Homo sapiens: one gene and its partner. The protein of the gene in region 2 purifies or fractionates together with the protein of the main gene of each other region. This does not show direct contact. Each region holds a gene or a part of one and is shown on either strand. Other genes may lie near its edges. The genes, in order: MBIP and KYAT1.

Region 1 (3,822 bases), on a different chromosome or scaffold from region 2:
TTGAATACTGTAGGCAAGTGTAACACAATGGTATATGTGTATCTAAACACGTCTCAACATAGAAAAGATACAGTAAAAATACCATACTATAATTTTATGGGATCACTGTAATATATGCAGTTGACTGTTGACTGAAACATCCTTATGCAGAGCATGACTGTCATACACACGTTCACGCACATGCACACACACATATGAATCCAGGGAACCAGTGCTCTAAGGAAACTCAAGGGTAAGGAGGCCTCTTCCATGACTGGCTTGCTTTCTTTCAGTTGTAAAAGGCAACTGATTCTATGCGTGCAGTATCTAAAATGTTTTTCTTCCCTTCTAGTCCCAGAGCCCTGATTCAGACCTTCATTTCTCTCTGGCTTGGATAATGACATGTTTCCTAAACTAGTTTCCTTGACTCCAATTTCTCTCCAACTCAGACTTCATAATGCCACCAGACAGGGACCTAAATTACAAGTTTCTCTCTTTCTCTAAAACTTAATTGTGCTCCAATGATACTAGAAGTGCAAACTGGTTAGTGTGACCTTCAAGGCCCTCTGAAATATGTTTACAATCTAATTTTCTAGCTGAATCCAGTTGTTCACTCATGCTTCAGACCCACCACACGTTCACACGCACATGGCCTGTGTACATGATGTTGACCTGATTTTCAGCATTCCCCTCCCCCGATACTTCCCTTAAGAACCAGGAGTTACTGTTACAGACTAAAAATTACTCTCAGTCAGTGCTTTGAACAAAGTTAACACACCTTCAAAGTCCAATAATGAGCTATCAGCCAAGTCCTATCCATTCATTTGCACATCTACTCGATATTGACTACATTCTGTGTCTCAAAGATGAACAAGACATAGTTCCTGCCCTTGAGAGTTTCAAAATATAAAGTGAAAAACATGTATAAACATATGAGTGATAAATGCTATAAACTAAACAATATACTTGTAAAAGCATGTTGGTACTTACTGTTTTCAAGTATCATAATTTAAAATCAGTAAGTCTTTGGAAATACTCTAAGATCGTTCTTTTAAATGGACTGTTAAGGCCATGCCCTTAAACTTTTGAAAACATTACATTTAAAGCTTTCCATGGCTAATGTGAAGAATAAAGATCTTTAGAACTCTTATATCAAAATGTCCAACAAGTATTATTAACTTTTGTCATAAATCCTGTTTTATACACATATAACTTATTTTGGAGTTTTATGTCTGGTCGTAAAATGAGAACTTTACATAATCTGATTACATTTTATAAAACAAATACAAATGACATCTTTTTTCCCCATAAATATTTGTTTTTCTATGCTACGCTTCAATGTTACCCATGATAATCAATCTCTATCCAATTGTAAGAAGCTCCCCCATGTTTAGAATTCATCTACATGTGAATCTGAATAAACACATTTCAATGAAAATCTTTTCAGAGTTCAGGAGTTCCAACAAAAGTTCAATCCTTAATAAACTGAATGGGCTCAACTTTCCTTTCCTATCTTTAGAAGCTATAGGACTGTGCTACATATGTAGTTTCTTCTGTATACTTTTGAGGGATAAATATGTAAAATTATGCAATTACCATGCATGTACTCCCAGCATGATGGTGAGGGTGATGAATAATGTACTATGTCCTCTGTAAGGTATGTGCTCAACTTCTCCTGTTTGCAAGGACACTCTTAGAGCTGACTGTATTCCAAGTGAGGTTCCTAAAGATGGCTCATTCATCCTATTATAGAAGGGTGATGAGTATGAAATCTTCTTTCCCATAGGGCTTGTGTCATGTATGTTCACAGGCCTAAAGGACAGAATGAGTCTGAATGTTTAAACTTTCCAGTGTTTTGTTCTTCCTTGTAGCTCACTACTAATTTAATGTGTCACTTACAACACTAATCCAGAAGAACTGCAGTTCTTCTAAAAGATATATAGTTTTTTTTTTTAACATATTTGGAAATACTTTTAAAAATCACCTGTTTTATCACAGGTTGCCACCATCCATCCTTTTCTGAATGCTTAATACATATATGCCAATCCTCTGTTTACATTTACAAATGCTTCCTGCCCCTGAAATTAGGCAGTCACCAAGCTTCAGACTTCAGGCCTCAGACAATCTGTGTTCCTATCCATCAATGGACTCTCACACTACACAGACTCTCCCAATTGTCCCAAGTGTAAGTGCCGTATCTCAAAAAGCTTACCTGATGTTTTTACCTTCATAACCTCCTCTGCCTTCAAATTCACATTTCCCACAAAAGTATCTCTCTCTCTAGATTTTCTTATTTCTATCAATGATGGTATCATTTTTCCAACCAGAAACTGGACTCTATCCTTGTTCTCTGTCTCTTTCCACATCCAATCATCAGTATTTGTCCATTTTTTTTCCTACTTGCATTAATCTTTTCCATTCTCACTCATGTCCCTATTTTAGGAACTAACTTCACATCTAAGCTAGCATAATACTATCTCCTTATCCTTAGTTTCTCTCGTTTGTCTCCCACAACTGTATTAGATAAATCTTTCTAAATATCGTGTTCACAAATCACTTCTCTGCTCAAATGCTTTCAGTAGATTCCCCCTGCTGCCTGCCTGGAAAATAGATTTTAAACTTCTGAGCATAGCACTTAAGGTCCTAACAATCTGGCTACTTCTACCTCTTTACCCACTCTATCCTATCTGTAACAGATCAAAACAAAACAAAAAGATTATGATGTGGAGGGCTTTTTTTTTTGTTAAACACATCTATAAGTTTTGTTTTTTTTGTTTTTGAGACCGAGTTTTGCTCTTGTTGCCCAGGCTGGAGTGCAATGGCGTGATCTTGGCTCATCGCAACCTAAGCCTCCTGGGTTCAAGCGATCCTCCTGCCTCAGCCTCCCAAGTAGCTGGGATTATAGGCATGCGCCACCATGCCCAGCTTATTTTTTTTATTTTTTATTTTTTTGTATTTTTAGTAGAGATGGGGTTTCTCCATGTTGGTCAGGCTGGTCTTGAACTCCCGACCTCTGGTGATCCGCCCACCTTGGCCTCCCAAAGTGCTGGGATTACAGGCGTGAGCCACTGCATCCGGCCTCTGTTAAGTTTTTATAAATCAGAATCAGAGAGAAGAGAGGAATGATGCTGCAGCAAGTTCTCATTGGAGGCATCTGATTTTACCATACTCTATTGTAAGATCGGTTCTATCGTTAATAAGAATTATATTAACAAGGTATGAAATTGAACTAGAAAAATAACTTTCCTAGGTTATTGCCTTCTTTAATGAAGGCAGTTAGAATGGGAAAAACTTATGGTAGACTACTGTAGGAAAAGTCATTAAAAATCTTTATGAAGTCTCCTAGGAAGACATTCAAAGAATAATCCTAAAAGTGAAAAGACCTTTGTAATTATGTAGTACAACCAATACATTTTCTAAAATTAGACATCTTGAAGATCAGAGGAATAGAGTGACTTTTCCACGTTTATACAGCTACTTTGTAGTTATAAAACTAAATAAATGCCAATGAGGTTTTTACCATGTGCTAAGCAGTATGCTAAGTGTTTGATCAGCATTATCTCATTTGATCTTTGCTTCAGCCCTTAGTATTTTCATAAACCTCATTTTACATTTGAGAGTAGTAAATCACTAAAACTCTTCTCTGAAATTTTGTCATTTAGGACTTGCTGCTCCCTTTTGTTACGTGACCTGCCTTCTTCTTCTGGAAATACTTCTTTTCTGTAACTCACTCTTATACTCAATCTATAACTTTGGAAGATTGCTGTCATACCTAAAATAAATTTTAAATATATTTTCACCACTAACTTATATGATCCATGCTAAAATGGGCTATCTCACATA
Region 2 (3,822 bases):
CAGATCTTAGATGCCTGAGAGCTACCCCAGAAGGGTCCTCGGCACAGCTATGGTCCCCATGCCTAGTGGTGCTGGGCCTCCTCGGTGCTGCCAGATCACCTGAGCTGCCTCCATTGCAGCAGTTATCCCACACATTTTTTTTTTTTTTTGAAGCGGAGTCTTGCTCTGTCACCTGGACAGCTGTCAGGCTGGAGTGCAGTGGCTCAATCTTGGCTCACTTCAACCTCTGCCTCTCAGGTTCAAGTGATTCTCCTGCCTCAGCCTCCCGAGTAGCTGGGACTACAGGTGCCCACCACCACACCCGGCTAATTTTTGTATTTTTGTAGAGACGCGGTTTCACCATGTTGGCCAGGCTGGTCTCGAACTCCTGACCTCAAGTGATCTGTCTGCCTCGGCCTCCCAAAGTGCTGGGATTACAGGCGTGAGCCACCACGCCAGTGAGCCAAGGTCACACAGCTGCACTCCGGCCTGGGCGACACAGCAGGACTCCATCTCAAAAACAAAAACCAAAAAAAAAAAAAAAACAAAAAAAAACAAATTGAACATAAATGGAATAATGGAAGAAATAGCTAGCTGTGGGGATGGCAACTCTGCAGCTGTTCACAGTTTGGGAAACCTGAGATCTGCATCCAGAGAAACTTCTTGAAGGCAAACTTATCAACATAAATGAGGAAAGTGGTTCTAAAGAAAAAGATAATGACCCAGAGGAAATAATACCAGCAAAACTTCACATTAAAGGAACTCCCTGGGCTGAGCGCAGTGGCTCACGCCTGTAATCCCAGCACTTTGGGAGGCCGAGGTGGGCAGATCACTTGAGGTCAGGAGTTCGAGACCAGCCTGGCCAACATGGTGAAACCCCATCCCTACTAAAAATACAAAAATAAGTCGGGCATGGTGGTGCGTGCCTGTAATCCCAGCTACTCAGGAGGCTGAGGCAGGAGAATCGTTTGAACCTGGGAGGCAGAGATTGGAGTGAGCCGAGATCACGCCACTGCACTCCAGCCTGAGTGACAGAGCGAGACTCCGTCTCAAAAAAAAAAAAAAAAAAAAGGCAGGATTATCTCACCACAAAATGTACAGAACAGGAACTCCCAGAGATATTTCACAACATTGAAAACAAAGGATGACTAAGGATGACTCGTATTCATCAAGACATAGAAGATGTCAGGTGCAGTGGCTTACACCTGTAATCCCAGCACTTTGGGAGGCTAAGGCAGGATGATTGCTTGATGCCAGGAGTTCAACATCAGCCTAAGCAACATAGTAAAACCCCCATCTTTACAAAAAAAAAAAAATAGCTGAGCATGGTGGTTCGTGCTTATTGTCTCAGCAACTCAGGAGAATGAGGTGGGAGGATTTCCTGAGCCCGGTAGGTTGAGGCTGCAGTGAGCCGAGATCACACCACTGCACTCCAGCCTTGGCAACAAACATAGAAGAAATGCTCATTCTGTATCCTAAATTAAACCACTGGAAGACTGCAGCACTGTTCAGTTCAGAATATTCTTTTTTTTTTTTTGGAATGAAGTTTCATTTTTGTTGCCCAGGCTGGAGCGCAGTGGCGTGATCTCGGCTCACTGCAACCTCTGCCTCCTGGGTTCAAGCGATTCTCCCGTCTCAGCCTCCTGAGTAGCTGGGATCACAGGCGCCCGCCACCACGCCTGGCTAATTTTTGTGTATTTAATAGAGACGGGGTTTCACCATGTTGACCAGGCTGGTCTTGAACTTCTGACCTCAGGTGATCCACCCGCCTCGGCTTCCCAAAGTGCTGGGGTTACAGGTGTGAACCACCACGCCCGGCCTCAGAATATTCTTTTTTTTTTTTTTTTTGAGACGGAGATTTGCTCTGTCACCCGGGCTGGAGTGCAGTGGTGCAATCTCTGCTCACTGCAACCTCTGCCTCCCAGGTTGAAGCGATTCTCCTGCCTCAGCCTTCCGTGTAGCTGGGATTACAGGTGTGCATCACCATGCCCGGCTAATTTTTTGTATTTGTATTTAATTTTTTTTTTCTTTTTGAGATGGAGTCTCGCTCTGTGGAGTGCAGTGCCGCTCACTGCAACCTCTATCTCTCGGGTTCAAGCGATTCTCCTGCCTCAGCCTCCCAAGTAGCTGGGATGGGATTACAGGCACCTGCCACTACACCCAGCTAATTTTTTTTGTAATTTTAGTAGAGACGGGATTTCACCATGTTGGCCAGCCTGGTCTCAAACTCCTGACCTCAAATGATCTGCCTGCCTACCGGCCTCCCAAAGTGCTGGGATTACAGGAGTGAGCCATCGCGCCTGGCCCAAGCTATTTGCAATAAAATTTTTTCCTTGATAAACTTTTATAACGAAAGAAAACGTCTTAATTTTCAGTGTTGCTAATATTAAATTACAGTGTACTAAGTTCTTATTAGTTTTTTTTTTTTTTCATTTTCTATACTTTTTTATTTTTAAATGACAGAGTCTCACTTTGTTGCCCAGGCTAGTCTCCAATTCCCGGGCTCCAGTCATCCTCTTGCCTTGGCCTCCCAAAGTCCTGGGACTACAGGCATGAGCCACCACACCTGGGCTACATTTTTAACAGATGGTAAGAGAGTTTTAAAAGGTCACAGAACAATTGTCTTATTAATTATTATTATCCAATAATAATTTTCTCGATTATTAAGTTCTCTTTGCACAATTTAAGTTTACATGGTCTTTTTTTTTTTTTTTTTTTTAAATGGAGTCTCACTCTGTCACCCAGGCTGGAGTGCAGTAGTGCGATCCTGGCTCACTAGAATCTTTGCCTCCCGGGTTCAAGCAATTCTCCTGCCTCAGCCTCCGAAGTAGCTGCGATTACAGGCACATGCCACCATGCCCGGCTAATTTTTTTTGTATTTTCAGTAGGGACGGGGTTTCATCATGTTGACCAGGCTGGTTTCAAACTCCTGACCTCAAGTGATCTGCCTGCCTCGGCCTCCCAAAGTTCTAGGATTACAGGCCTGAGCCACCACGTCTGGCCAACATGGTCTTTTTTTTTCTTTTGAGACGGAGTCTCGCTCTGTCACCCAGGCTAGAGTGCAAACGGTGCGATCTTGGCTCACTGCAACCTCCGCCTCCCGAGTTCAAGCTGGTCTCCTGTCTCAGCCTCCCGAGTAGCCGGGATTACAGGTGAGTGCCACCATTCCTAGCTACTTTTTGTATTTTATTAGAGACGGGCTTTCACCATGTTAGCCAGGCTGGTCTCGAACTCCTGACCTCAGGTGATCCGCCCACCTCGGCCTCCCAAAGTGCTGGGATTACAGGCATGAGCCACTGCGCCTGGCCTCAACATGGTCTTTTTCTGTTTTGCTTTGTTTTGTTTTTTTTGAGTCGGAGTCTCGCTCTGTCACCCAGGCTGGAGTGCAGTGGCACAATCTTGGCTCACTGCAGTCTCCACCTCCCAGGTTCATGCCATTCTCCTGCCTCAGCCTCCCGAGTAGCTGGGACTACAGGTGCACGCCACCACGCCTGGCTAATTTTTTGTATTTTTAGTAGAGACAGGGTTTCACCGTGTTAGCCAGGATGGTCTCAATCTCCTGACCTCGTGATCCACCCACCTCAGCCTCCCAAAGTGCTGGGATTACAGGTGTGAGCCACCATGCCCAGCCAATTCAACATGGTCTTTTTTTTTTTTTTTTTTTTGAGACAGAGTTTCGCTCTTGTTGCCCAGGCTGCCGTGCAGTGGCACGATCTCAGCTCACTGCAACCTCCGCCTCCCAGTTCAAGTGATTCTCCTGCCCCAGCCTCCGGAGTAGCTGGGACTACAGGCGTGTGCCACTATGCCCAGCTAATTTTTGTATTTTTTTTAGTAGAGACAGGC

The links.
Region 1: the proteins of KYAT1 (region 2) and MBIP purify together in Homo sapiens (affinity purification with mass spectrometry; 2 studies listed by BioGRID and IntAct, with this or other methods). This does not show direct contact.

The regions. Positions count from the first base shown.
Region 1 is NC_000014.9:36,303,514-36,307,335, forward strand, and holds part of MBIP (MAP3K12-binding inhibitory protein 1), read right to left. Parts: intron 1-3,822. UniProt on the Homo sapiens protein: Inhibits the MAP3K12 activity to induce the activation of the JNK/SAPK pathway. Component of the ATAC complex, a complex with histone acetyltransferase activity on histones H3 and H4.
Region 2 is NC_000009.12:128,871,951-128,875,772, reverse strand, and holds part of KYAT1 (kynurenine--oxoglutarate transaminase 1), read left to right. Parts: intron 1-3,822. UniProt on the Homo sapiens protein: Catalyzes the irreversible transamination of the L-tryptophan metabolite L-kynurenine to form kynurenic acid (KA), an intermediate in the tryptophan catabolic pathway which is also a broad spectrum antagonist of the three ionotropic excitatory amino acid receptors among others.